Regions from separate parts of the Homo sapiens genome. Here all the other regions are reported to be linked to region 1. The links are microRNA targets in miRTarBase. Many come from high-throughput screens and were not tested one by one. Region 1 holds a microRNA gene; each other region holds the end of a gene's coding sequence.

What was found. Region 1 holds the annotated microRNA hsa-miR-325 (CCUAGUAGGUGUCCAGUAAGUGU, at 2,769-2,791, shown strand). A microRNA usually pairs through its seed, bases 2 to 8, with sites in the 3' UTR of a target mRNA and lowers its output. Matches are read on the target gene's strand: a 7mer-m8 pairs with bases 2 to 8, a 7mer-A1 pairs with bases 2 to 7 and ends in A, and an 8mer does both.
Region 2: the mRNA of RBMS1 is a reported target of hsa-miR-325. Seed matches in the 3' UTR shown: 7mer-A1 at 4,453-4,459 and 7mer-m8 at 4,681-4,687.
Region 3: the mRNA of KLHL8 is a reported target of hsa-miR-325. Seed matches in the 3' UTR shown: 7mer-A1 at 5,381-5,387.
Region 4: miRTarBase lists DNAJB9 as a target of hsa-miR-325. Seed matches in the 3' UTR shown: 7mer-m8 at 3,097-3,103.

Annotation. Positions count from the first base shown.
Region 1 is chrX:77,000,557-77,008,254 of GRCh38, reverse strand. It overlaps MIR325 (microRNA 325), which reads left to right and starts at 2,754; the gene lies at 2,754-2,851. It overlaps MIR325HG (MIR325 host gene), which reads left to right. Exons shown (of 3, transcript NR_110406.2): 2 at 875-979.
Region 2 is chr2:160,270,512-160,278,209 of GRCh38, reverse strand. It overlaps RBMS1 (RNA binding motif single stranded interacting protein 1), which reads left to right. Exons shown (of 14, transcript NM_016836.4): 12 at 827-907; 13 at 2,496-2,580; 14 at 3,446-6,059. The coding sequence ends at 2,573. LINC02478 (long intergenic non-protein coding RNA 2478) reads left to right here and starts at 6,315. Exons shown (of 2, transcript NR_103775.1): 1 at 6,315-6,490. RefSeq lists an enhancer at 7,498-7,698.
Region 3 is chr4:87,156,355-87,164,052 of GRCh38, forward strand. It overlaps KLHL8 (kelch like family member 8), which reads right to left. Exons shown (of 10, transcript NM_020803.5): 9 at 7,524-7,698; 10 at 3,749-7,288. The coding sequence ends at 7,165. Among named protein-coding and RNA genes, the nearest start is that of KLHL8, 60 kb to the right of the region's middle.
Region 4 is chr7:108,571,711-108,579,408 of GRCh38, forward strand. DNAJB9 (DnaJ heat shock protein family (Hsp40) member B9) reads left to right here. Exons shown (of 3, transcript NM_012328.3): 2 at 7-233; 3 at 1,189-3,140. The coding sequence starts at 17. The coding sequence ends at 1,643. Among named protein-coding and RNA genes, the nearest start is that of DNAJB9, 5.7 kb to the left of the region's middle. RefSeq lists an enhancer at 7,286-7,698.

The DNA of each region.
Region 1 (7,698 bases):
AGGCTGAGGCAGGAGAATAGCTTGGACCCAGGAGGCGGGGGTTGCAGTGAGCCGAGATCGTGCCATTGCACTCCAGCCTGGGTGACAGAGTGAGACTCCATCTCAAAAAAAAAAAAAAAAAAAAAAAAAAGGAAAAGGAAAAGAAAAACTAATAATGGCATGTCATTTTTGTCACCTATCAAATTAGAAAAAAATAGAAAAGATAATAGTCTATGCTGGTGAGAGTGCAATGAGGTGGTCATTCTTGTACAGTGCCAGTGGATTAGATTGGTACATCATTTTTGGAAGTAGTTTGATGTTATCTATCAACATGTCTAAACATAAAGATTCAGATAAATAGAGATTCAGGTAAAGATTTACATACCTTCAAATAACATTATTTGTAAAAACAAAAATGGGAATAAAAAGAAAAATGCCCCAAAATAGGGGAACAAATATATTACGGATGGAAACAAGATGAGAGACTTACAAAACTATTAAAAAATATTTTAAAGAAAAGTTAATGACATGGGAAAATGTTCATGATTTAATTGAAATGAATCAGATTATGATATAGATAATAAAAATTAAAATATGCCAAAATCATTTATACAAAAGTAAATTAACCTGAAAATAAATAAGTTTATTCAAGATTAAAGTATATTTTATTTTATATGTCCTTAATTGTTAACCAGAAACTAGGGGGTCTAGGGGATACCCTTACCTGCTGTTTGGTAACCATCACTTTAACCTTACTCAATTAGGCATATTTTAGGAGGTGGGACAATGGGTTTTGTCAGAACGAGGATTTGGGTGTCACTCTCTCACTCCCCATCCCATGTCTTCCTTTGTCTCCCCTCTCCTCCCTCCCTTCCCTCCACATTTTGTAATGCAGAGAAAGGTAAGATTCATTAAGACTTGGGTGAAAAGAGTTAACATGGGCAGAATCCTGGAAGACTTCAAGAAGAAGGTGGAATTCAAACGGAGTCCTGAAGAATAGGTAAGGTTTTTCTAGGGGAAAAATATAGGTTAGATCATAACCTTTTTAGTTTCTACATGTCAATGATACTACCCTAGACTATAAAGGCAATGCCTTTGAGAGGTACTAAGAGTGGTTTTCCTTTGGGACAGCTGTATTTGGAATTTTCTAGTGCCTTTCCTCAGAGTTCAGGTAAGTTTTCATATTCTGAAGCTCTGATCTTGGGATCAATATAGGATAGATATAGAAAAATTTCAAGAATTCGACGTTGTTTTGATAAACCAAGTATGTAATATGGGGAGTGGATTAAGGTTGATGGGGTGGTGGGGTGGTATAGTGGCTGGGAGGTATTGGGGAGAAGAGAAAGGAACAAATATTTGTTGAGCCTGCTAATTGTTACCATGCTTATTTAATTTTACCAAATGTACCTAACAACCATATGAAGAAGGCAGTTACTTCAATTTTGAAGATAAGAAGTCACGAGGGCCTAATGGAGGCTGGGGTAGTGAAAGTGGTGAGGAGTAGATGTATGTGACTTATATTTTCAAAACAAAATTGAAAATAGCAGTGGCAGGTGTGGAGGGAATGTTAATTGGCTTAATTGTGATGTACAGAAAACCATTTTAGAAAACTAAACTCTGGTTAGTAACAGATTTCCTGCCAATGTTCAGAGGCTTTGAGCCTGGGTCATCTTGGGAGGATGGAAAGGCTATTAATGGAGGTGGGGACTTAAGAGGAAGAGTATGTTGGAGGGAAGATGATATTCCCTAATTCTTCAAAGCCTCTTCTGTGCTTGTCAGTTCACACTGCCCTTCTTATTGTGCTCTACCATATTGTATAGGCACTCCATATATGTAAATATTTACAAATGCATCTTTGGGAGGATACATAAGAAACTTTTAACAGTGATTGCCTCTAGAAAAGGGAACTTGGTGGGATTGGGAAGAACCCTTACTTTCATTTTGCATTTTTTGAACTATGTATCATATACATGTGTTACCTACTTAAAAAAAAGAATATTATAAAGCAGATGAAAAATAAAATAGAAAAACCTAATACCTCTCCAATACATTTCCATATTCTGCACTTTAATCACAAAATTCTTCTGCATCCTGTGCCCTTACTTGTCCATGAAACCCTTCCCTGACCATTCTAATTCATATCCTAGCCTTTCTGACTATTTGGTGTGGGAATGAATGGGAAGAAGGAAATGGGACTAGAAAGTTCAGACTATTCTTGCAGAAGATTAGTGGAGAAAGGAAGGATATTAGGTAATGTGAAACCTTGGAGTCCAGGGAGGTTTTCTAATTTAGGTCTTTCCTTATTTGTGACTAGGAGAGATATTTGCACCTGTCTAATAGGTGTAGGGGGAAAGACTGGAGAGAGGGGAGAGAAGTTGAAGACAAAGGAAATGGAGAGGTTGTAAACGGGTTTACCAAAACCTATCAGCCATGTTGGGATAGAGTTGCAAATGAATGTATTTCTAGAGAACTGCTCAGAAATGGTTCTGAAAGCCTGAAAAGCTCTCTGTAAGGAACCAGATTTCAGAACAGGCCTCTCTCTGGCCATTTCCTACAGCAACTCTTCACAATTAGTCCTTTTGGGTCTGCTGAGTTCTATCAAGCAATCATTCAACAAATGTTGAATGACCATTATGAGTAAAGTCACGGCACGGGACAGGGATTGTATGGCTTAATTAAATATACTGACTTGACATTCACAAAGGAAAGAAAGGTTCTGTGAGAAAAAGTTGCTTAAATATAGGTTTTGAGATGGATTCAAGTCCACAGAACCAATACAGTGCTTGGTTCCTAGTAGGTGTCCAGTAAGTGTTTGTGACATAATTTGTTTATTGAGGACCTCCTATCAATCAAGCACTGTGCTAGGCTCTGGGACTACATAGATAAGTTATTCAACATCCTACATTTTGAGGTACTTAGGCCTAGTGGTGGTTACAGTAGAGTGATTAATATTTTGACAAAGGTACAAACGGGTAGGAGAGGATCTACCCCAGAAACAGAACCAGATTTCAGTGTGTTGAGGGGTGAAAAGGAAAAGAGTAAGTGAAGATGGTGAATGTAAATGGTTCTTTAAAAGTTTTTAAACTGTTCTTAAACTGCTTTTAAAAAGCTTGGTTAGAAAGAAAAGGAGAGACAGGGCAACAAACAGAGAAAGAGATAAGGTGGAGGGACTGTTTCTTAAATGATGGGAGGTTTCAGCATATTGTTGTGCAGAGGACAAAGAACCATTGGAGAGGGAAGGAGTGAAGATTCGAAGTTAGGACAGTGATTGATGAAAAGAGATGTCTGAATATATAGGAAGAGATGGAAGAGAAAGTTGGCCAGGAACTCCTGAAGAAGTTATCATGTGGTGCCAATAACTCTCCTGAAGAAGGAAACCATAAATTTTCAGGTGGTACCAGGTCAAAATGTGGTTAAAACTAGAGAAAAGAAAATGGTTGCAATAATAGATTATAGAGCCTAGGCAAGTCAGAAAAAATAATTAGGATGGACTGATAAACTGACAGAAACCAGGAGCCCATAGAATAGGAGTAGTATGGGCAAGGAAGTAAAAGCCCTCACTGGAAAATAAAAGTAGCTGAAGAGTAGGGTATACGAATTTAAGATTTCAGAAGTAGAGCTGTTCTGGATGATGAAAAGACCCTGCATGGGCCATGGATGTGGATAAATGAAGTGTAGAAAAAGTCACTGGAATTGAGTCAAGCAAGTGAGGCTTTATGGTTAATCCCCATGGAAGCCCCTCTGTGATGGTACAAAGATTTGTACCAGAAGTCGAATGTTCAATTTATGTTTGTGAGAAACCAGGAAGTAAAGAGATGTCAGTGATGAGACTCTTTGGTAGGGAAATGCTAGTTGTCTTAGTTGTCATTCACCCACCCTCCCAAATAAAGAGACAGGTGAGAGAAGGTGTGCTGCATATCTGTGAACTTGGCTTCCCCTTCTCTAAGAGCTTCAAAGGGAATGAGATGGCAGACTCAGGCTGCTTAGGGAGTTTAATCTGTGAATGTGTAGTTCAGCCTGTCCTAGTGGTACCAGCTGCATGCAGATGTAGCCAGCAAGATAAGGCAGTTCAATGTCTGCGGCTAGCTGGAAACATGTAACTCCTCAGAAGTGGTGAGAGGTGTAGGAATGAAGAGGAACTGAATCACACAAAGGAGATGAAAACAACACGTCTGGGCTGAGTAATTCTGCAGAAAGTGTGGTGAGCTGGCGGTCTGTCCATGTATTTCCATGGTCTTTACAAGAATAGTAGTGAGTAATAACATATGAAACAGTTTATCACTGATGCTTTGAGATGAACATCAGGCAGAGAAGCCAAGTTTTCCATGTGTCTAGGAGAGCTTTTGAGGTACAATTTTGGCTACCAACTGGCTCCACAGTTTAGATCTTGGTGGGGAAAATATTCTAGAAGAAGAGTAGTGACAGCAACTCCCATCTTTGGAGGTACCTGTGAAGAAAACCCAGAGAAAATAGGGAATAGCTTCAGGAAGCCCTAAGCTGTCCTCTTTCACAATAGCAACAATAATAGTGATGATGACAACAGCTGAAACTTATGTAGCACTTACTCTATGCCAGGCACTGTTTTAAGCACTTTATTCATATTATTTCTTTCAGTGCTTAAAATAATCCTGTGAGGTAGGTACTAATATCCTAATTTTCCTAAGAGAACGATACTTTGTTACAATTCCCAGGATCCCCTCCTACTTACCCCTACCTACTATGGCTTGGCTTCTGAGTATGTAACATAGAGGTAGAGGCCAGTGGCCTGGCTGAATCTTTGAAGATGATTTTGGTCACATGGTAAAGACCATGCCACGGGAATCTGGTGTTGTTCTGAAGTAAACCTGACAGACAGAGAAGCCTTCACAAAGGTTTTATAAGATCCAAAATTATAATTATGGTGTGTGTGTGTTTCTAAATGTAGATTAGATTATCTCTGGTATCACAAAGTAACACAAGGAACTTTTAACAGTGTTTTCTTCTAGCAAAGTTAACTGACTTTCAAACTGTATATAGCCTTTTGAATATGTTAGAATTGTTTACCATGTGCATGCATTTCCCTTTCAAAATCTAAAACAAAACAAAAACCTCCAAACAAATGTTAAAAAAGAATAAATTTCCAAATAATCTTTTGAAAACTCCATTTCCTCATCTTCCCATTTTCCCCTGTCTCACTCCTATACTTATGACAGGACTTTGGATAGAGGAAAGAAACTTAGCAGGAGCGAAGCTTGCTGCTGCAATTTTTGCCATGTTTTCTGGGAAGTCATATTGCATCCTGTAACATTCCAAATAAGCCCATAACAAACCTCAAAAGTGTACATTCTCAATTTTATATTCCAAATAGTATAACATCGTGAATATGTCCATAACAAACCTCAATAGTGTACATTCTATACTTTATATTCCAAATAGAGAAACAGAGAGACTTTTGCAGCCATTTCTATCTATTTTTATTTGAATGGAGGTTATAACCAGGTTTGAATTCTAGTGAGTGTTTGCTTAACTGAAACATTCCATTCCAATTAGCCCGAGCGACTTAAAGCAAAGAAAACCATCAAGTAGAAGTCTGGCCTTTCAAAAGAATTTTCTGTACCCTTGGAATTCATTGCAAATTCTGTTTTAATATTAGACACACTTATGCTACATGCACTGGCTTAGTTTTGCCTGTGCTCCTTCATCTTTGCCAATACCATCTTGCATCTTCCCTTCAAGGTCATGTGCCAGTCCTCCTAACAGTGAAATTATTTTCCTGGTTCAACTTTCCCACACAGTCCAGAGCCTCTCTCTATTCCCAGCTCAAACTCTTCCTCTCATTTCTGTTTGTCTGAGGGAACCGTTTATTATAGTTAAGTTTCAAGGTGAATTAAAAAATCTCTAAGGTCACCTCCTGCTCTATAATCTCTGGTTCACTTGAAGGAACTATTTCACATTCCAAAGGCAAACCTCCCTCTATTGGTTCTCCTCTACCTTCCTTATGATTTATTGTCAAGGGTTGAATATACTTCTTTTTCCAGGGACAGCCCTGGGAATTCACACACCTTAAACCAAAGAAATGGATTGTTAACATTAACAGTGAAATGTCTAGTCTCAAAGAGGCTGATGTTCAGGTGGAAGCCTTCATAGTGTCCCTCACATCCATCCACCCTTGTAAACAGCTGTTCTTCCCCTGCCCTAAGTAAGGAATAGATCAAAAAAACAAAACTCCATCCTTCTTGTGGAGCCTCCCTTGATATTCCTCCACATCTCAATATTATCTTTGCACTTTTGAGGTTATCTGCTAAAGCAGGCTTGCTTGGTCTGGTTACTGTGTAGATTACAGCCACATTGTTAAAAAGGCCTCCAACACCTGGGCCATTTGAAGCCCTTGTGGGTTCTTCTGGCTCCAGGTCCCTGGTTGGGGATTTCATCTTATGTATTTGTACTGCCCCAAAACTAGTTGTTGCTGGCCTCAGAATCAGATTGAGAATTCTGGGAAAATTAAATCCTTATGCTTTGCCCTAAGGCAAAACACTCCCTTTTATTATCTTAAGTGCCCGATTTCCATTAATCGCTTTATTTTTCTGGGTGAAAATTAATACCATATTTAAGGAAGATAAAGTCACATGGTCTCCAGTACCAATATCAAACATTGAGTGCTACATAGTGGGAAGTAAGAGACAGGAAGAATAGCTCTGCTCTCTAAGGCTAAGGTCCTGGACCTGTAGCACTATTCCAACTTAGGCTAGGTTAGAAGAGATCCCTTGCTTGGAAAGTTGGAACACACGCACGCATGCACGTACACCCTTCCCCGACCCCCGCCCCCCACATAAAATTGTCTCAGGCTTCTCTTCTAAACAGATGACATGACAACAAAAGGGAGAAGTAGAGGGCTCTGGTAGGATCTGGAATGATGTCTTCTCCTCTTCTTAGTCCTAAGGGTGATCCAGCTATGTCCTAGCTCATAAAGTCTGCTTGGCCTTGGTGTCAACCTTAATTGACAGCAATGGCAAAAGCCCACAGATGACTGAGTCACATAATCAGAAAGATGCTCTAGAGGTTATTTAATTGACCCCATTCTTCTTTCCTCTGCCCTTAGCTCCCATGAAGGATTATACCTAAAACAAGCTCTTACCTGCAGAACTTGTCAGGAAAGGCTGTAGGATTATTATTTTCATTGCCACTCAGGGAAAGTGGAGTCCAAAAAAAGCAAAGTAATTGGCAACTCAGCTTTACTTGCCAGCCTGGCTGCACATGGGATTAGGTTTGGAATGTCAACTTTCCAGAAAACATACATGGACAGAGAGAAAACAAGAAGAGAGTGAGGACAGAATGGGGCCTTCAAATAAGCCATCCAAGTTGTGAAGCTTCTGGTGTCTCCCTGCTGCTTTCTATCTATAAGAAAATTTCACTTCTGACAAAGTCTCCCTCCCCAAGGTCTCTAGGCCCCCAATCACTTCTTACTCATGGTTCTCAGTAGATCTCTGAGCTTTGAGGCAAAAAGCTTGTGGATGAGTGCACACACATATGTCCACTTTGTAGGACACTTCTTCAGTCATAACCAGAGAAAGTAATTTTTAAAAAAAAATTCTTCTAAAAATTGGGATACATATGCAGAATGTGCAGGTTTATTAAATAGGTATATGTATGCCACGGTGGTTTGCTGCACCTATTGACCCATCCTCTAAGATCCCTCCCCTCGCCCCCCACCTCCTAACAGGCCTTGGTGTGTGTTATTCC
Region 2 (7,698 bases), not on the chromosome of region 1:
AGCAGGGAATTATTTCTCGCTTATTTCTTCTTTTATGGAGTTTGGGAGTATTGAATCATGGTCTTAATATTGAAATATTTCACCAAAGTCCAGGGGACTCCTTTGGGTAATGAGGTTGAGCTGGCACCAGATCAGCTTCCAGATTTGATGCTTAGCATTTTGCTGGTAAGATGGCTAAAGGATTTTAATTTAGCCTCTATTCTATAGTGGCTTAAAAGAACAAAGGGTGGTGCGTTTTCCCCTTATACACTCAAAACCTACAGCTGTTTCTTGTGAAGGCTAAGCCAGGGCCACACATATCCAATGAGACTGACTAGAAATTTCTCCTGCCTTTGGGAAAGGATGACTGTCAGTGTCAGAAAAGCCAGGCTCTGCTGCCTAATCTGCAGTGACCTGTTAGAGGTCTAATAAGTCTTACCCCTGTGGGCTCTACCTGTAGAAACAATACTAGGTACTAGTTTAGGGGGCTGCTAGAAAATAATGAGGTCCTTTGAGGAGAGATCTTCTAAAATCACACATTAGTGATACTGAATTATTGAGAGTGACAAACTTTTTTATCTTCACCCATAATAAACTTTTTTTATCTTCACTTTGTTAGCAAATCCAAAGAAATGTGGAATTTTTAGTTTAGCAGATTCAAAAAGTAGAAAACAGTTTACCTTCCATATGACATATTTATATGCACTATTTAAGCTTTGAGGTGTAGCCCATTTAAATTTCTTCTTTGAGATTTCCAAATACATTATATCCATCTCACAATCCCCCCACGTACTCCAAATTTTGCATGGTTTACCATTGCCCATTCTGACCTCATTCTTCTTTCTAGTACATGCCTGCAACGTCAGCTATGCAAGGAGCCTACTTGCCACAGTATGCACATATGCAGACGACAGCGGTTCCTGTTGAGGTTGGTAGAGACCATCCAGTGACCATTCTGGCTATAAGTAGTTTCAGAAATGGGTAAATTAAATAGAACTCAGAAAAATCTACCAGACGTCAAATATTTGCATAAAGAATTGCGTTTAGCCAGATGTGGTGGGTCATGCCTGTAAGTCCAACACTTTGGAAGGCTGAGGAGGGAGGATTGCTTATGGTCAGGAGTTAGAGACCAGCCTGGGCAACATAGTGAGATCCCATCTCTACAAAAAATAAAATTGTTTGAAAATTGGCCAGACATGGTGACATGGACCTGTAGTCCCAGCTACTCAGGAGTATGAGGCAGGAAGAACCCTTGAGCCCTGGAGTTTGCAACTACAGTGAGCTATGATCATGACAAATTAGGGTAACAACATCCAGGCCACACCTCTTAAGACTCCCAGAAATATTTTCTAAGCCTATAGTGCCTTTCATACCCCTCGGACGTTCTGTCTTGTCTCTCATAAAATGATACTACAGACATAATAAGATAAATCTGGAGTTTGCAGTCCCAGTACTAAAGATCGTATCAATGATAATTAATAATGACGAAAAGAAATCAGTTGTAGTTAAGATACTTAGTGGAAAAGAGAAAGCTGTTTTGAAACTGCTACAGGGATGAAGAAGAAGCTATAGCTGTTTTTACAGAGGCTGTTAGTATGGCTAGATAACTGTTCTTGTTATGGAAGATACTGATATGAAAGAAAGAAGTCTAGCATTTGAATTATGGTTAGAGAGAAAACGTGGCATTTTCCTGCAAAGTATCCTTAAAATTTCAAGGAAATGTATCAATCCAGTTGATCTTGCCCACTAGGCAGATCCCAAAGGTTCCAATTCCAGGAAAGGATCATAGGACTCTGGCCTGTTGGTGGAGGTGGTGGTGGTGGTGGTGATAGTAGTAGCAGTAGTAGTAGTAGTAGGTGTTGGTGGTGGTGGTGGTGGTGGTGGTGGTGGTAGTAGTATTTTACTTCTGTTTGTGCAATTACTGACAACCACAGTTACCAGAGCCTACAATTCCTTACCTGCAATCTGAAACCCAAAAAGAAATCTGAAAATAAAAATTATCTTTGTAACTACTTTAGCATAAAACCTGACCTATGGCAAAACTCAACCTGAATTGAGATGAGACAAAATCTTGATCCCACTTAACTGTGCTGCTTCATGGCTTCCAGTGTAGAACTATTAATATGTTTGCTTATGAGGTGCAGCCCTAGACCCTACTGGAGGCATTAAATGATATACAGCATATGCATACCACATTTCAGATTATAAAATCTGAAAATACTGAATTCCAAATCACATCTGTCCCCAGGGGATAAGAGGGTAAGAGATTTGTTTGATATGCTGTAGCTTGATAAGAATAGGAAAGTCATAAACATTTGGATGGGAGGTGCTTTGGGTCTGTTAGACATGCCAGCTGCTTAGGGAAATGATTAACCTTGAAAGCTCTACATGACGTGAAGAAATTTACTTTAAAGAGTAACTGTTTTTAAGGCACTGTTGGATTCAGTCAGGCCTAAGTAGCAGAGCTGAGGTTTTTTCACTAACATGTCTCATCCATTCTGCTTTGTTTGTTGTAGGAGGCAAGTGGTCAACAGCAGGTGGCTGTCGAGACGTCTAATGACCATTCTCCATATACCTTTCAACCTAATAAGTAACTGTGAGGTATGAGGGAAAGGTCTTCATAACTGGGGGGCTCAAATCAAGCACAATCTATAGGGCTTTTTTTAAAATCAGAATGGTGATTGGGATAACTCGGATTTTATCATACTGCTTTAATCGTGGCCAAGGCATCTAGTCTTGTTGAAATATTAAAATCAGTGATTTTATGAATTTAAGATTAATCATTTTGTCTAAAGAGAATGCTTTATACTGAAGCCAAATGTATACTCTCCCCACTAAAAAGAAAAAAATAAAAATCTGTAACATCAGAGAACACCAAGAACCAAAATTGTTCTATAATACAAGTATCCTATATCATATTACTTTAATACTCAGAAACTGGAGGACCTATAGCATAAGATGTTGCTCAATCTAGCATTACAAGTTTAGCAACATCTTGATTATGAATTTAGATAAATGTCAATATCCTTAGATTGAAAGATTATATTCCCAACTCTCACTTGAACCACAAATTTCAAAACTTTTCACTTTACCATGCAGACTGTAATAAAATAGCTGTGTAGAACTTAGAATACCCTGGTTTCTGCATTGCCCTGGTGATATAGAATACCTTGGTTTCTGGATTGCCCTGGTGATAACATGTATTTTTGATTTCATAAAGTCACTCTTTAGAGACCCAAATGAATTTGGCTCTAAATTAGAAAAGAAAGTATTTTGCAAGTCCTGGATGTGACAGGCATTGAAAGTAACCATCAGTTCCAGAGTCTGCATTTATCAGTCTACCATCAGTGATGAGCATAACCTTTTTCAAACACATATCTCTTTAAAACAAGAAACAGATTACAAAGCTCTGTAGTGTTTCACACCAAATCTACAAAAGCATTTGTCTTTTATTTTTCTCTTCCAGATGTACAGAAAGGTGTTCTTACATGAAGAAGGGTGTGAAGGCTGAACAATCATGGATTTTTCTGATCAATTGTGCTTTAGGAAATTATTGACAGTTTTGCACAGGTTCTTGAAAACGTTATTTATAATGAAATCAACTAAAACTATTTTTGCTATAAGTTCTATAAGGTGCATAAAACCCTTAAATTCATCTAGTAGCTGTTCCCCCGAACAGGTTTATTTTAGTAAAAAAAAAAAAACAAAAAACAAAAACAAAAGATTTTTATCAAATGTTATGATGCAAAAAAAGAAAAAGAAAAAAAAAAAGAAAAGAAAACTTCAATTTTCTGGGTATGCACAAAGACCATGAAGACTTATCCAAGTGCATGACCGGATTTTTGTGGTTTTGTTCATTTTGTGTTTAATTTGTGTTTTTTTTTTCCAGCTGTATGAAATGGGCTTTCTGAAGTTTAAATAGTCCGACTTCACCCATGGTGTTCTGTGCTTGCAGTGCGAGTGTTGCTGTAATTCAGTGTTGCCGTCAGTGTCTCTTTTCTTAGCTTTCTGTCTTTCTTTCAACGTAGTGTGAAGTGTCTTATCCTTTTCTATGAATTCCAATTTGCCTTAACTCTTTTGATGCTGTAGCTGTTTCAGTAAAAGTTAGTTCAAACTAATGATGTAGAATGCTTTGACCAAATGAGCTGGTCTATTATGCCTTGTAAAACAGCAGCATAGGGCTTTTAAAAGGTAGTCAATAAAAGTTGCTGAAATTTTGGCTTTTTTAAATATGTAGTAGGTGTTTTTAATGATTTTTCACATAATGTGTAAGGTAGTGAAATGCAAGAAGGGAAAAATGTTTTGTGTGAAACACATTTTCTGACTGGGGAACTTTTATTAGGGTAAATTGTTTGTAAGGCTGTACGCCAACAGTTTCCTCTGATAGTTTGACTGATTTAGGATATCTGCTGTATGATGCAATGTAAAGTCTTTTTTGCCTTTTTTCAGGAAAAAAAAAAAGCTAACTTGATGTACTAGATTTAGTGTAGGTAGTGTTGGGGTTGGGGATGGGGGTGGGGGAGGGGAGTCACTGAATGTTTTGTCCTTCCTTTATACTAATGATAGTGCTTTAGAATGAGAATTATGCCTGAAATCTGGCAAACCGAAAAATGTTGCTATTGCAACAAAGTGGCAAAAGCTAAAAGTAAGGATTTATCTTCAAACATAAGCTGAGATAACGAATAGAAGCAAAACGATTGGCTACTAGCTCTCTCTCTCTCTCTCTATTAGGTAAATTTGAAAAATAAAAATGACTTGGCACTTTTAAAGGTAACTTCACCAAAGACCGAAGAGCCAGTAACCAGTAGCTCCAACTTGTCTCAGCATCACATCTTCTGTGCTCTTTATTTTTGCCGGACCAGTTTGCGGTTAGGAGAATGTGCCTTTTTTGTACCTTTGCATTTAGGTTTTATAATTTTAATTGATGTATGGACACACACAAACAAAAAAGCATGAAGGAAGATTTGGATCCAAGCAGTGCCACACTTTACATCATCACTACAAGTGTTCAAGTGTAAAGAAAACCAATTTTGAAACTATGAAATTCCTGATTCATAAATACACAGTTATTTCTACTTTAGTACATATAAGATAATTCACTGTTATTAAAGCTCTTTTATTAAGGCAATTGCATATGTTTTAAAAGCAATGGTAAATTAAGTTGTCTTCCAAAACTGTGTACTTGTCTGGTCAGCTGTGTATGATCAGTTATCTACCTCAGAGTCTATTTTCTTTTGTGCTGGGACAGGTTGCTGGCCCTCCCTGTTTCCACAGACCAAATCCTCCTAGCTCAGGAGCTAGGGCTAAGCAGTTATTTCTTTCAAGTATTTTTTAGTTCTTAAATTTTATGCTTGTATTTGATGATAGATGTCAGTGACATTTCATAGTTTCAAAAGTCCTTGCTGCTCTGAGAAGTGTAGATTCTAGTGAAAATTACATAGTCATAAGAGAAATGTGTTTTTGTTTTTGTTTTTGTTTCATTTTTTTAAAGTTGTGGTATTATTGGTTCTATGCTCCCTGGAATATTACTGCTTTGTGAAAGTCCAGACTGAACGCAGCACCCTCTGTGTACCTAGTACAGTTATAAACCTGGGTCTCTCACTACTTGATATTTTTGCATTAGTTAAGACAGAAATTTGATAGCTCGGTTAGAGGGGAGGGGAAATCTGCTGCTAGAAATGTCTGAACTAAGTGCCATACTCGTCTGGGTAAGATTTGGGAAACATAACCTCTGTACATAAAAAAAAAAAAATCAGTTAAACATCACATAGTAGACAGCCATTAAATTATAAAAAAATTAATTTATGAAGAAAGACCTTTTGTACAGATTGAAAAAAAAAGATTTTCATAGAGATATCTATATGATCAAGAGAGTTAATTTTTTATTTTTGTTTTACTAGTGCCACAGACTTGCCAGTGGTAACTTATTTGTCCGGTTCAAGATAACTCTGTAGTTTTCTTTCCTAGGACTTGTTGTTAAACGCCAAAAGACATTTTTGAACTGTACATTTGATCAGATTGTTAGCTTTTCTGTTTTATTTCTTTTGAGAACCTTTGAATAAAAAACATCTGAAATTTTATTTTTCCTGTCAATTTTTTTTAAGTCGATTAAGTGTATATCAGAATTTCATTTCATTTCTGATCTCTTTCTTCAGCTCAGTAGATTGGTTTGAAAGTGAGTTGAAAGTTATGTCAGATTCAATATATCCTCAAAATACATTTCCTTGAAAACAATTGGAAAAACCTTTCCACCCCACTTTTGCTGGTTATTTAAATCTGTGTAATGACCAGAGACGTCAACCCTCAGCTCAGCACGTCAACCGTCAGCTCAGCACGTCAACGGTCGGCTCAGCAAATATCCAGCCCAAAATACACCACTAGTGGTCTGTTCTTAAAGACCAAAAAACCAGGCCCTTTTTCTTCCTCCTTTCTTGCTGCTACGCCTCAACTATTTCATTGCTTGTCAATGCTCAGCAAGGAAGACAGCCTAACAGCAGCCCTCCCACCTGTGGTAAGGAAGCATGTGGGCGAGAACCTCGGGATAATCTTATCTATGCGTTTATGACCAAGGTCCTCTTTCAGAGCTACCTGTTCAGCTGTTCCCGACTGGAGGCTCCCGTGCAGCATTCACGGAGGAGCGAGAACTCCTCTTTCCCTCACTTGACTGCTTTATAGGAGGCACTTAATATGCAAAATAGGCTCCTTCTGCCCAAAGTGGAGTAAACGTTTTAGTGTGGTGGTTCAGTATTTATTTCCTGGTGTCCAGTGGCTCTGTCATGGTGATAAAAAGAGTGGGCAAGGAAAAGATGCAGTCCGCTCCATTTCTGGCTGCGTCCCCTGCCATGTGGATGGTGTGCGGGGTGAGTTAGATAAGGGAGGGGTCAGAGCACTTAACTTGCCGGAGCCAAGAAATCGCTGGTACTTGATGGCTGTTTCAGAGAAGGAAACAACATTCCTCTGATGCTAACTGGTGCTTCTGAGAGCAAAATGTCAGGGAGGAGAGAAGCATGGCCTCTCGAGACAAACCCAGGCTGCTAAGAATGTAAGCTCTGGTCTCACTTTGCGTTCCAGCCAAACACCTAAGTGCTCCTTTCTATGACCAAAGGTAAGAAAGAAATGCAATTCAGGCTCCTGGGCACCTTCGTTTTTGTTCACCCTATTTTTGTTGTAGCTTCTCGCCGCTGAAGTCCGCGGCCCTCTATCTGGCTGTGTTATGTACTGAAACCGGTAAACATACTCAGGAGCACCAATCCACGGAAAAGGGAGGATCAAGCCAGCGATGGTGGTTCACAGTTACCGCTCCCATATAACTAGAGGGGTTGTGGCATGTTTGGGGATAAACCCCACCTAGCTGAAAGCTCTGAGACTGAAGTGGAATTCTGGGGTTGGAGGAGAGGAAAGAGGGTGTGGCCGTTGCTCTGTGGTCTACGTATTTTCCCCTCTATAGTGGCTGGAATGAGGAAAGCCAGGGAGTGGAGGCGGGAGTCCCGTTTTTCACCCCACTGCCACACCCTTCATGGCCAGTGGCTCTAGGTTTATCCGCTGGAGCTTAAATCCCACAAATACTGATTTAAAATTCACTAGGAGAAAGGCAGTGCCTCCCAGCCTGAGCCGGGGCTCAATGAATGTTAAGATATGACTGATTATATCCTCATTCCATTAGGGTAGCCAAAAAGGAAAAGAGCCAGCGCCATTGGGACAAAGGTCACCGACCTCTCA
Region 3 (7,698 bases), not on the chromosome of region 1:
CTGGACAACACAGAGAGGTGGGGTGGAAGAGTGGAGGGAGGGGAGGCAGGTGGGGGTCGTGGGGGTGGTGGATCACCTGAGCCCAGGGAGGCTGAGGCTACAATGAGCCATGATCATACCACTGCACTCCAGCCTGGGCGACAGAGCAAGACCCTGTCTCAGAACAACAACAACAAAAAACAAAACCAGAAGGCCAAGAACATTCCTTAAGAAAAATACAAAGGTAAGAGACTACCCTTGTCAGGTATCAAGACATATAATCAAGTTATAACAATTAAATAATGTGCTACTTGGCCCTTGCTTAGGCAAACTGACCAATGGAACAGAACAGGAAGTCCCCAAATAAACATTTGGCTACAATGGCAAATTTCCATGTAAGTAAAGCCTCTGAGGAAAGGATGCATTAGTCAATAAACGGCGCAGGGAAAACTGATTTTCTACATAGTAAAAAAATAAAATTTTAAATCTATATCACACATACACAAATCAATTCCAGGTAGGCTAAAAACTTAACTGAGACACTTTTTTGATTTTCAGAAGCAACATTGAGCAACTATGACCCTGGGATAGGACAAATTTCTTAAAACATAAAAATAACTCACGTTTGAAAATATTAAATTTTGTTTACAAAAAAACCCAAAGTGAAAAGCTACAAACTGGATGAAGATATGTGCAAGAACAACAAAAAAACAACAAAAATATCAATATCCTAAATACAAAAAACTCTTAAATAAGAGCAAAAACAGAAAAATAAAAGACATCAAGACATATTTCACAGAACAGGAATGACTAATAAACATGAAAATGTTTTTAACTTATTAATCAGAAAAATGCATGTTTTCTTTTATAGTGAAGTGAGTGCTGTCACATTCATAAGGAAAATGCAATTTAAAGCCACAATAAAATACCATTTTACACCTAACAGATTGGAAAGAATTGGGTCTTATGATAGCAAGTAAATAAGAAACCATACTGTAAAGCGGTGCAACCAGTTTGGAAAACAATTTGGCATTATCTTGTAAAACTGTTAAAAAGCTGATCAGGCACATGCCTTACAAACCACCAACTTTGAATCTAGGTTTATATGCTAAAGAAACTCTTGGACATGAGCACCAAAAAATTGGATATGAATGTTCGTTTCAGCATTGTTTGTAAAAGCAAAAAAAAAAAAAAAAAGAAAAACTAGACCCAAGAAAATAAATTGTAAAAATAAACCTGTTGAATAAAAACAACAAGTTACATAAGACTACATAAAGAATACTTTTTTGTTGTTTGTTTTTGAGATGGAGTCTTGCTCTGTTGCCCAGGCTGGAGTGCAATGGCGCGATCTCAGCTCACTGCAACCTCCACCTCCCGGGTTCAAGCGATTCTCCTGCCTCAGCCTCCCGAGTAGCTGGGACTACAGATGCATGCCACCATGCCTGGCTAATTTTTGTATTTTTAGTAGAGACGGGGTTTCACTATGTTGGCCAGGCTGGTCTCAAACTCCTGACCTCGTGATCGGCCCACCTCGGCCTCCCAAAGTACTGGGATTACAGGCGTGAGCCACTGCGCCCCGCCAGGATGATACTATTTTTTATAAAGTTCACAAAAATAAACGATATATAGCCATGGGACATATGTATGAAAGCAAAAGGGAGGCCAGGTGCGGTGGCTCACACCTGTAATCCCAGAACTTTGGTAGGCCGAGGTGGGCAGATCACAAGGTAAGGAGATCGAGACCATCCTGGCTAACAAAAATACAAAAAATTAGCCGGGCATGGTGGCAGGTGCCTGTAGTCCCAGCTACTTGGGAGGCTGAGGCAGGAGAATGGCGTGAACCCGGGGGGTGGAGCTTGCAGTGAGCCGAGATCACGCCACTGCACTCCAGCCTGGGAGACAGAGCAAGACTCCATCTCAAAAAAAAACCAAAAGGGAAAAAAAAAAAAAAAAGAAATGATAGATTCAAGGAGGTGGTTACCCCTAAAGAGTAGGCTGGGGATTGGAATTGAGAAGGAACACAAAGGTAGGGTTAATACTACCAGAAAGGCTCCAGTTCTTAGTGGGTGGCTTCATAGGTATTTTATTATTATGTCTTCATCTTGCATATATTTTTATGTATGCATCAAATACTACCTATAGAAATGTAGTGACCAGGCCAGGCATGGTGGCTCACGCCTGTAATCCCAGCACTTTAGGAGGCCGAGATGGGCGGATCATTTGAGGTTAGGAGTTCAAGACTAGCCTGGCCAACATGGTGAAACCCCATCTCTACTAAAAATACAAAAATTAGCCAGGTGTGGTGGCATACACCTGTAATCCCAGCAACTCAGGAGGCTGAGGCAAGAAAATCACTTGAACCCAGGAGGCGGAGGTTGCAGTGAGCCAAGATCACACCATTGCACTCCAGCCTGGGCGATAGAGTGAGACTCTGTCTCAAAAAATAAAATAAAATAAAATAAAATAAAAAGAGACTGAGGCAGAAGAATCACTTGAACCCAGGAGGAGGAGGTTGCAGTGAGCCGAGATCATGCTGCTGCCCTCCAGCCTGGGCAACAGAGTGAGACTCTATCTCAAAAAACAACAACAACAACAACAACAACAACAACAAAAGAGAAATGTAGTGACCAGAAATACTTTCATACTGCTAAGAAGAGACTACAAAAAAAGGAAATGATCTTTTCTTAATGTATGCATACTGTATTACCTAGTGAATGCAGAAGTATGTATAACTGATATAGGTGGAGCAGTTGAGTTTTTTAGTCACAAAGAATATTAGTCAATCACTAACTTAGTTGTGATCTTCAACTAGTTATTTAATGTCTTTGAATCTATTTTCTTTTTAACTTTTGAACCTTTTTTTTAACGGTGAAGTATCAAATTACTGTAAAGATGAGAAATGTTATTAAGTGACTGGTACAGGCGATACATTTTTTTAAATGATAGCTAATACTCCCCATAACTATTACTCATATCTAAGAAACCCCTTATATTCTACTGAACTTAGCCTCAAACCACTAAGATAATGGAAGAGTGACTTGTTAAAAACAACAAAAAACGCACCAGAATTTCTGCATTCAAATAAGGTTGCCTCTCAAAGAGACTATACACTTCTTTCACTGACCTTGCCATTGCTCAGGATTTTAGAAATATTTCATTCAAACTGTTTAGTGTTGAAAACATTTTTACCAGTAGATGAAAAACCTCACTTCTTTGAAAGTAGATTTTACCTATGAAAATAGACATGAAATATTTTCAATCATGTTTGATGAATAATCAAGTTAAGATTTTGGTCAAGATTAACATATGACTATGATGAGACTAATTCTTTTGAGTGACTTACAAATGATCTCTTCAGGCTATTTTCAAAGATGAGTTTCAAAAGAAGTTTTAGCAATGGCAACCTTAATTTTTTTAAAAAGCTACAACTTTGCAAGGTTTCTACTTGGAAGGACAACAGTCATCCTAATGCATAGTCTCATTTCTATATAGTACAAGTCTGCAATTACTGAAGAGACAACTGCTTAAGATCAGTGAAACTACTTACATCAGTTACCTTCAACCTTTAATTTTCATAAGGGAAAACGAAAAGCTTTCTAAAATTTTCAGTTAAACATAAAGATCCTTCATATAAGGAGAAAAATATAGCCAACCTACTCAATTTTGTATTTGAGGAATGGAGAATAAACAATTACACAGTTTTGACAGGATCCCATAACAGCAATCAAATAATGATGAGAAGCAGTTACACAGACCTTTTAGAGAGAAGTTTGTGCTAATAGAAATATGCAATGTATTTTAATTAAATAAATAGCACTGATGTGACCCCAACTTTTTGATATCCATAGTTGGTGATATATATGACCACTTATTACATTGATTTTCTGGAGTATTATAACACAAATTTATAAATGGTTTTAAGAAAATATTATAGAGAAGTTTTACTGACACTTGGAATTTTACATGAAGGGGAAAGAGACATAGCCAATGGCATCCCAGTAATAATTTCTTTACACATCTGATACGAGAAACCACAGAAACATTCTTAACTGATACAACATGAATTAGATTCTAAAGGCATTCTTTAAGACATAGAGAAAAAAGAAACAAAGAAAATTCTCAAGTTTACCATTTACAAGAATAGTTTATGCAATTTCAAGAAGTCCTTACCAAGGCATTCAACAGCACTGTAAGTTCAAAGTTCATTTGGGAATTAAAAGAATGAATAAAATACTCCTTAGAGGGAGTACAAAGTTTATTCAAACATTTTAGAAATAATCAATTAATTACATAAGTATATAGTGAAATCTGTCAAAAACAATGTCAAGTAACTTGTTTTTAAAGTGGCAACGCAATATAGTAAAGCAATGGCTTTAATGACTAAATGAAAGAATCACAAAGCACCTAGAAATATTTATTGAAGAAATAATAAACAAATTTTCATGATTTATTTTGTCCATTTGCAATTTCAGTATTTTAGCTCTATCTCATATCATTTTTTGGTAGGTGCTGTTAACATATGAGGTTAAAGTGGTAAGTCTCACAATAAAGTAGCCATCTTCTTTGAATATTTCATCTCTTCATTTCTATGAATATAATCATCTTTCAGCTGCATGATTCCTTCAGCCTGATTCTCATTTCATGTCTCAATAAACGTGTTTTTGCCTGATAAAGAGAACTGTGCACATATTGATTCTGCTTTTTTATCTTTTTTTTTTTTTTTTTTTTGAGATGGAGTTTCACTCTTGTTTCACCGCTGGAGTGCGATGGCTCAACCTCGGCTCATTGCAACCTCCACCTCCTGGGTTCAAGCAATTCTCCTGCCTCAGCCTCCTGAGTAGCTGGAATTACAGGTATGCGCCACCACGCCTGGCTAATTTTTGTACTTTTAGTAGAGACAGGGTTTCACCATGTTGGTCAGGCTGGTCTTGAACACCTGATCTCAGGTGGTCCACCCACCTCGGCCTCCCAAAGTGCTGGGATCACAGGCGTGAGCCACCATGCCTGGCCTATTTATCTTTTCATACTGCTGTCAGGTCCTTCAAGGCTATGCTTCTGATTGCCCACACACTTTACTTCTGAGTATTTCATATTTTACGGGTAGGTAGGGTACCAACTTAGTATGTTAGATAACCATTGTATAGTAAAAACCAGAAATGAAAATATAATAACCCTTATAACTCCTTACATATAAGAAAGACAGAAATACATCAAAGAAAAAACATTTTAAATAATCTCAGGAAACAATAACAAGATCCTCTCCCCGAAAATAAATATAACAAACATATTAGTAACCATAGCTAAACAAACACTGTAATATAAGAACTCCATTAGACATAAGAAATAGACATTGAAGCCAGGTTTTGACACTTATTCTCCACATCCAGCCAGTTGTCACCAGTCTAGTAAGTGCTACAGGGTTAACTGCCTCTGGACTGACTGAAATATGGTTGTACTTACACAAAAGAACACTGGTTCAGATCCAGCAATGACTTATGAACTTGCCCATAGGTAGAAAAAAATAGCTTACTGGATTTATATCTGCTTCATAAGAGACTTTTATCTGCCAGCCTGACCCCTCTTAAAACTTTTTTTTTTCTTTTTTGGTTTGATATACTCAATAGGCACTGGCTTTTTTTTGTGATGTGGCTTTTTTTGTGATGTGGCTTTCCACACTATTGTAGAAGTCCAGAATCCCATTTAATAAGATGCATGAGCTATTAGTCAATGAACTTTAGGGCTGGATGGATCAACGAAGTGTTTTTCACTGCCCCAGCTTCCTTATGAACCAGATTACTGACCAGCGGTGAACTACAATAAATTCGAAGACACAACTAACAAAAACTTAGGAAGGCCTGGAAGAGAGGTGCCAAACTGCACTGCAAATACAAAATAAAATATTTTCATGTTCTTGATAAATATTTATAAAAAAATATACATATAATGAATAGGCCATTTTATAATGCTAGTTAAAACTTTGAAGAGCTGTTAAATCTGTAGGTCCATCAATATCCTGGCTTCAAATCAATATGTAGAAATATTTTTAATTAAATTTCAATAAATACACCAGAGGGATTTAAATATGATAAAAACAGTAATTTCAATCTCTGTTTTTACCAACAATATGTTTAATTAGTTCGTGATGGGCTTGAACTAATCAATAAACTACAGTCTACAAAAAGGTTTTTGTAAAAATGCATTCATTTCTGATAATAAATAAATGCAGATTGATTCTGTACAGTCAGAAAAACCAGGATGGTGGCAAATAGCAAAATAGAGAGATGATAAATCTTGGATCCAAAATCAAATGATCAAAGAAGACAGTTAAAGATATTTTCAGACTGCCCACATTAGAGTCATGTAATCTGCATCATTCTTTCTCAAGGTCTCTCAATTGGGCACCAGAATAACATCAGATCTAAAACCTTGTTCAATATTTCCTCTGGTTCACCTTTTGATTATGTAACAAATACTTTTTGCAAAAGATGAAAAAATAAAACTGTAAAATCATTTGGATGGAGTTAGCCCAGCTAGGTCTTTTGGTGTCCTAGCAATTCAAACTGAAATTAAAGGCTTCTTATAGCCTATAAGCTTCTGAAAATGCAGCTAAGTGGCATTCAAAAAGACAGAACATTTTTTCTACTTCCGTAAATATAAAAGAAATTGAAAAATCACCACCTAGAAAAAAAAAGCTAGGCATAAATTCATCAGCACCAAGTAGAAATGATCTTCAAAAGGGGCAAGTCTCTTATGTATCCTTGTGTTAATGAATAGGTACTAATCTCTCCTCTAGGAAAAACCCACTGCCTGACGTTAACATCTTTAGGCAAAAGAAAAGGCAAAACTCAACAAATTACATTTTGATTCATCCAAATAGAGAGAGAGAGAGAGATTTCAAGATTTTTGGCACTACTTTAAGCATTTTTCAGGGTAGGTATGATTTTAAGTTCGACTATCTTCTTCCCTACTCCATTATTTGCAAAAGCAGGAAGTATCAAATTTAACTCTATTACTAATAATTCTTCAGGTATCATTCCAAAAGTTGTACTTAGTCACAATACAACAGTTAACATTTAAATAAGACTCTAGTTGCAGTAAAAAGTGTTGAAAGGTGGTCATATCAAAATCTTGGTTTTCTTTTGTACCTATCAGATATGACTAAATTGTTGGTGGCCAGAACTCAAATCACATACAGTCAACCACATTATTGGATCCATGACCTACATCTCGAATTTGGCTAGTTAAACAGGAACACACAGCTACTCCTGCTCCAGCTCTGCAGTGAGACACAGATCCAACAAGCTCCCACCTGAAAAGACGGAGAAGAAAAAATGTTACAAAGCATAATTTACTTTACTCAAAATACTAACCAAAGACAAAAATTCCCTATGTGAGACTGGTTTTGTAGGACAGCAAGCTTCCAGTGGGAGATAAGATATCCCAAAGCTTAGTATTAACTACGACTAGCAACATTTTAACACTCTGAAGTAATCTACTATTATACCAGAAGATAATATAAAGCACGGAGACAACATGTAAATTACCTATTCAGCACTGGATCAAACGCTTCTACTGTATTTAAGTATGCATTGCCATTATGACCACCAACTGCAAAGATTTTGCCCATCACTGTTGCGATTCCCACTCCACCTCTGGGAGTAGTAAGTGCTGCCACATAATCCCACTTGTTGCTTCGGGGGTCATACCGCTCAACTGAAC
Region 4 (7,698 bases), not on the chromosome of region 1:
TTTTAGGATATTAGAAATGGCTACTCCCCAGTCAATTTTCATCTTTGCAATCTGCATTTTAATGATAACAGAATTAATTCTGGCCTCAAAAAGCTACTATGATATCTTAGGTGTGCCAAAATCGGCATCAGAGCGCCAAATCAAGAAGGCCTTTCACAAGTTGGCCATGAAGTACCACCCTGACAAAAATAAGAGCCCGGATGCTGAAGCAAAATTCAGAGAGATTGCAGAAGGTAAATAAATGACAATCTCTGAAGTGTCATGGGTATTAACTAGTAAGGAGAATGATAGCTAAGAAGTGTTTGTATTTGAAGGTTTTGTGGAGATGGGAGGTGGAGTGGGATTTATGTATAAATATTGGGTGATTCTCTGAGATTATTTTCTTATCACAGATGCTTTGATTCCTGAATAAATATATGAAAGAATAATAGATAATTTTATTGGTATACGTATCTAAAAATATTGAAAATCTATTCTATATTATTTATAAGATCACTGTTGCTTCTATGACAAAAAAGAATTTTAGGTACCCAAAATTCTTATCAACTAACTTATGAAACAGAATATTTTACATTTTAAACATTAAAGACTTAAAAATTAAACTAGACTCTAAAGTGCTTTATTCACTTGATCTGCTTTTCAAAGCCATATTTGTCTTCAAAGAAAAAATTGGAACAAATTTTGACTTCAGACTAGCTCTAAAACAAATTGCACCTGCTGAGCATTCAGTAATTATTGTTGGATGGAGGTAACTGAGTAGGGAGTTAGAATTAAACAGTTTACTTTAGTAAGGAGGTGCAAAATCTTAATTCCTATTAATTGGTTATAGTTGATGGTTTAATTTTTTAATACAATTAATGATTTCACACGAATAATATGAAGATTAAAGAACTCTGATTGTTGCCCACATGTTTATTTGTAGTAATGGTAACATTTAATAACTTTATTGAGTATTGCAGATGGCATTGTGCCAACTGCTGATAACTCAGCAGTTAATAAGACAGTTTCTGCTTTATTTTATAATTTTGATTAACTTGATGCTTATATTTGTAGTGTTTTGCTTTTATTTCTGATGCGAAATTCTTCCCTAAAATAATAGTATTCAGTTCACTTGCTTGAAGAGATTTGAATATATGTAATTTTGAATATTTTACCTTCAGTTACTAAAAATATTTTTGTCACTTTCAGCATATGAAACACTCTCAGATGCTAATAGACGAAAAGAGTATGATACACTTGGACACAGTGCTTTTACTAGTGGTAAAGGACAAAGAGGTAGTGGAAGTTCTTTTGAGCAGTCATTTAACTTCAATTTTGATGACTTATTTAAAGACTTTGGCTTTTTTGGTCAAAACCAAAACACTGGATCCAAGAAGCGTTTTGAAAATCATTTCCAGACACGCCAGGATGGTGGTTCCAGTAGACAAAGGCATCATTTCCAAGAATTTTCTTTTGGAGGTGGATTATTTGATGACATGTTTGAAGATATGGAGAAAATGTTTTCTTTTAGTGGTTTTGACTCTACCAATCAGCATACAGTACAGACTGAAAATAGATTTCATGGATCTAGCAAGCACTGCAGGACTGTCACTCAACGAAGAGGAAATATGGTTACTACATACACTGACTGTTCAGGACAGTAGTTCTTATTCTATTCTCACTAAATCCAACTGGTTGACTCTTCCTCATTATCTTTGATGCTAAACAATTTTCTGTGAACTATTTTGACAAGTGCATGATTTCACTTTAAACAATTTGATATAGCTATTAAATATATTTAAGGGTTTTTTTTTTTTGACAAATTCAACATTCAACGAGTAGACAAAATGCTAATTATTTCCCTGATTAGGAAAGTTTCTTTAAAAAACACGTAATTTTGCCTAGTGCTTTTTCTCTACCTGCCCTTGGGCTCACTAATATCACCAGTATTATTACCAAGAAAATATTGAGTTTACCTGATTAAACTTTAAAAGTTAATTGTAGATTTAAATTGTGTGAACCTAATGATTTTTGCAGTGAAACCTTTACTAATTCAAAGTTGCATGTTCTATGACATCTGTGACTTGCGTTGCAGAGTGTACATGAAACTGTATAATTGAGTCATTCAGTAAAGGAGAACAGTATCTTGGTTAATTGCTACTGAAAGGTTGAGAAAGGAATGGTTTGATATTTACCACAGCGCTGTGCCTTTCTACAGTAGAACTGGGGTAAAGGAAATGGTTTTATTGCCCATAGTCATTTAGGCTGGAAAAAAGTTGAAAACTTAACGAAATATTGCCAAGAGATTGTTATGTGTTTGGTTCCAGCCTAAAAATGATTTTGTAGTGTTGAAATCATAGCTACTTACATAGCTTTTTCATATTTCTTTCTTAGTTGTTGGCACTCTTAGGTCTTAGTATGGATTTATGTGTTTGTGTGTGTGTAGTTTATCCTCTCTCTCATCTTTATCTAGAGATTGACTGATACCTCATTCTGTTTGTAAAACCAGCCAGTAATTTCTGTGCAACCTTACTATGTGCAATATTTTTAAATCCTGAGAAATGTGTGCTTTTGTTTTCGGATAGACTTATTTCTTTAGTTCTGCACTTTTCCACATTATACTCCATATGAGTATTAATCCTATGGATACATATTAAAACAAGTGTCTCATACAACATTGTATGTGAGAGAAATATAAATATTTACAACCTGATATTCGTTGTTGTTTTATTGTTAAAAGTTTATTATGCAACTCTGGAGGTATAGAGGGCATATAAGCTATGGGACATATGCTGATCACAGGCTATATTCATGAAGTTACTTTTGACCAACCTGAAAACTGATAGGATTTTGTTTGTCATTTGGTAATTTCTACTGCATTCTTACCATCCTTCTCTCACAAATTTTGATAGCTTGAAGATCTTTTTAATTATAATTTTGTTGTATTTGTTTCCTAGGAGCAAGTGTTCCTGCTGCCAGTTCTTTCCTCTTTAGGCGTGGTTGAGAAAAAGCAGAAACTTTACATAAAGCTGTATTTCTTAATCATCTTTAATTTGAAACTTAAGAAAATGAATTTATTCTGTTATATTTATGTAACTTATTTCCTGGAAGTTATATCTACTAGTTTTGTTTGATAATAATAAAATTAGCTATACCTTGAATTTTGGGCTGAGGATTATCTGTAGCCTATTTTAAAAAAAATCAAGTTTTGAGACATTCCAGTAATATATAAAGCAGAAGAGTGTGGCTTGGGAGATAAATCAGAAAAACCACAATCAGGATGTCCTGGAGAAGCTTTAAGGATTGGATTTGGGTGAGGGTGCAGAATTCATTCATATTAATTTATTGAAGAACTGCATTGGAAAGCTCTGCTCTTAGCTACTCCCTCCAGGTAAACAGTTGTTAACAAAAGTAACTTTTTCCTCAGGCAAGGGACTAAACAAGTCTTGAAAGAATGGGGTTATTTGGGGGAAGACTTACCCATTGAGGGTATTAGGGTGTGAGGTGAAGGCAGAGTAAAGGTGAAGTGAATTTTCACTTGAAGGTCAAGGGGGTGCTGGTGAGAAATGGCAGCACTCCCAGAGTAAAGCCTCCTTATGTTGGCTTGGTGGGAAACAATTTCTCTGCATGCAGACCACATACTCACCTGTGGGTACCTGCTGGTTAAAAAACCCTGACAATTTAGCCGGGTGTGATGACATGCACCCATAATCCCAGATACTCTGGAAGCTGAGGTGGGAGGAGTTGAAGGCTGCAGTGAGCTATGATTGGCCACTGCCTGACAATTTACTGAGAACCATCGCTTCTATTCAAAAAGGAGGTCTAATGCAGACACATAACTGCTGAAGAAACTGCTTTTCTCAGCTATCTGTGCAATTTGATCTAATCCTTCATAAACACATACTGATGTCCAAAGAATGTCAGACATTTAAGGAAAACTGATAGCTAGGAAAAGAAGCCCCAATGATTAGCCCTGACAATGTAATTCAGAGATTGAATTTAAGATTCTAGTATCAGATTTTTTTAATAGAATATTGCATCAACAGATAAGGACAGTTCTTGTCTTAACCTGCTTACTTCAGGATTTCTTTAATGATGGTGTCAGAACAGATGAAGTAATGTGAACTTACATTTGGTTTACATTTACATCTAACAACCAAAGTCAATGGGAGGTAACAGATGTGTGGTACATGTGTTTCCTACCATGCAGGCCTACTTTTTCCTTTGAAATTCATATTCTTCCTCATATCTCAACTTTGTTACTCAACTCCCTCGCAAACTTCTCTCCAGAGGTTGCCCTAATGTGGAGCTACCTAAATTTATTGTGCAGTTCTTTTTACTGTTACTCATTATGATACACCGTAACTGGTGAGCAGGATGGTGGGGGTGATTACATTCTTATGGAAAAAGACAAGCAATAACCATATGAATAAATTATAAACTGATAAAGTATGGAAAAAAAATGTAGCACAGGAGAGGAGAATTGTGAGGGCAGGCAGGTTGAGGATGTGTTGCAATTTTTGACAGGATTGTCAGTGTTGGCCTCATTGAGAAGGTAAATTTGAGCAGATGCTTGAAGGGAATTGTTTGTACTGAAGGTGGAAGCATATGTGGGAAGTTGTAGGAATGGCAAAGAAGTGCGCATAACTGGAGGCCAGTGAGCAAACCAGAGTAGAAGGAGATGAATTCATAGATAAGAGGGGTTGAAAGCAGCCCTACAGATCACCTAGGGCCTTGCCAACCTTTGTAAAGGATTTGATTTTGGAATGTGATATGGTGGCTGAGCTTGGAGCAGATAAATGACTTGATCTTTAAATCATTTTAAAAGGGTCACTCCACGTGCTTTGTTCAGAATAGACAGAGGGGCAATGGTGGAACAAGGAGAGAGTTTGGAGGCTATTTCAGTATTCTAGGATGAGAAATTGTTGCAGCTTGTGCATCGCACGAGGGTGGCAGCAGTGGAAGTGGTAGGAAGTGGTTGGATTCCAGATGTATTCTGCAAGTACAGCTACCAGGATTTGCTTATGGATTAGATGTAGGTGTGAAAGACAGAGGAGAAAACTATGATTCTAAGCTTCATGTTCTGAGTAACTGGAAATACAGAGTTGCCTTTAAGATGGGAGAGGCTGCAGAAAGAAATTTAGGAGGAAAAATCAGAAGTTCAGCTGAGATATATCAAATTTGAGATGATGAGTAAATGGGTGGAGATATGTCTGAAGTTTGGGAGAGAGAGTGAAGCTGGAAATATGCATTTTGGGATTGTCAAAACATGTGATACTTAAAACTTTGAGAGTAGATGAAATTACTGAGGGAATGTGTAGAGACATAAAGAGCAATTGAATAACTGAGTCCCCTGGTACTCTAAAAATGCAAAAAGAAGATGAGGAGCCTACACAGGCATCTGATAAGCAGCAGCCAGTGAGTAATGAGTTTTGTGTCTTGGAAGGAAGTGAAATAAATATATCAAGAAGTAGAAAGCGGCTGGGCATGGTGACTCACGCCTGTAAACCTAGGACTTTGGGAGGCCGAGGCAGGTGGATTGCTTGAGGTCAGGAGTTCGAGACCAGCTTGGCCAACATGATGAAACCCTGCCTCTACTAAAAATACAAAAATTAGCCAGGTGTGGTGGCAGGTGCCTGTAATCCCAGCTACTTGAGAGGCTGAGGCAGGAGAATCACCTGAATCCAGGAGGTGGAGGTTGCGATGAGTTGAGATCATGCCACTGCACTCCAGCCTGGATGACAAAGTGAGACTCTATCTCAAGAAAAAAAAAAAGAAAAGAAAGAAGTAGAAAGTGATCAACTTTGTAAAATACTGCCACTAAATCCAGTAAGACGATGATTGAGAACTAACCATTGTTGTTTTTAGCAATACTGATATCAAAAATGACCTGGATGCCAATTTCTATCAAGTTTTAGGGGTGAGCCTGATTGAAGCAGGTTTAAAACAGAATGGCAGCAAGATTAAGTGCTCTTAAATCATTTGACAAAACATTTGTGGACATAATTTTTATCGTGGACTTTTTAGTAGAGTATCAGCTATGATTCAATCCATGTAGCAATAGCTTATTCTTCAGAATGATGTTCTGCAGGAGTAAGAAGTATGCTATGAAAAAAAAAATCATGTTTAAATAGATTTGTGAAATCTGGGTTGGGATTCAAACCTTGCTAAATATGTTTCTTTTTAGGTGAGTGCTAGGGTTTGAATGGTTATGTCCTCCCCATATTCCTATAGTATTAGTAGATAGGGCCTTTGGGTAATTAGGTCAGGAGGCAGAATTCTCATGAATGGGATTAGTGCCCTTGTAAAAAGGGCCCAAGGGAGATCACTCATTTTTTTCTACATGTGAGGTTAGAGAAGATCTATGAGGAAGAGGGCTGTCACCAGACAGTCAATCTGCTAGTGCCTTCATCTTAGACTTCTTAGCCCCTAGAACTGTGAGAAATAAAGTTCTGTTTTTTATAAGCCACGCAGTCTATGGCATCTTGTTATGCAAGTCTGAACAGACTGAGACAGTGAGCTGCTCAGAATTCTCAACATACTAATCTATGTTGTGAATCTTTGGTAGCGATACCAAATATTGTTTGCCCAATTTATTGGACCATGGAAACATTTTTACTAAGTACCCTTAACCATATCCAAGTGTGCCACAGTAAAAGTTTGGTAAATACTGGCCTAAATAAAAGTGAAAAAAAATCATATAATAAACCTTTGGAACATGTGCATGAACACATACCAAAGCAAGGATGATAGCATATATTATGTTGGTACTTGTGTTGCATTATTAAAAAAAAAGTATTTGAATTTACTATGATTGAAAAAGATTATCCTATCAGAGCCCATTATGATGGGCTTTAGCCTACATTTCATCAACAAGCTTTTCTTCTTTTGATCACTGTTGTAGCTACTTGAATAATATTGTTTCCTCAGGAGTATTTTATACCTACAATAGCCATCATCAAGCAAATTATAAGAGGACTATTATGTAAATGAAAACTCCTTTATTATTCTCCCAAGAAAATAAAAGCTAATAATTTTTGTTGTTATAGTTTTACAATAAGACAGTATTTGCAGACAGAAAAATCAAACTGTGACTATTAAGATAAATGGGAAATCATCTTATAGTCTACTAGGGTTTGGATGTTTGTCCACTCTAAACCTCATGCTGAAATTTGATCCCCAGTGTTGGAAGTGGGGCCTAATGAGAAATGTTAGGGTCATAGGGGTAGATCCCTCACAAATAGTTTAATGCCCTTTCTCAGGAGTGAGTTCTTTATTAGTTCCCACAAGAGATAGTTGTTAAAAAGAGCCTGACACCTCCCCTGTTTCTCTCCCTTGGTTCCTCTCTCGTCATGTGATCTCTGTATACGCTGGTTCCCCTTTGCCTTCTGCCATGAGTGGAAGCAGTCTGAGGCCCTCACCAGAAGCAGATGCTGGAGCCATGATGCACAGCCTCAGAAGTGTAAGCCAAATAAACCTCTTTTCTTTAGAAATTACCCAGCCGCAAGTATGTCTTTATAGCTACACAAAACAAACCAAGACAGTCTAATCCTTTTGGTGGTGGCAGTGGCCCATCTGGAACAGCTGCTGAAGGAACGCCAGTTGCAGTGGAGGAGGCGAAGCCGGGCTGTGCGCTCCATGGAGACTGCAGGAGCCGGGAACAGGTGGGAGCCCTCTGCTCCCAGGCACACCTGCAGCCACCCTGTGCTCTTAGGGTGC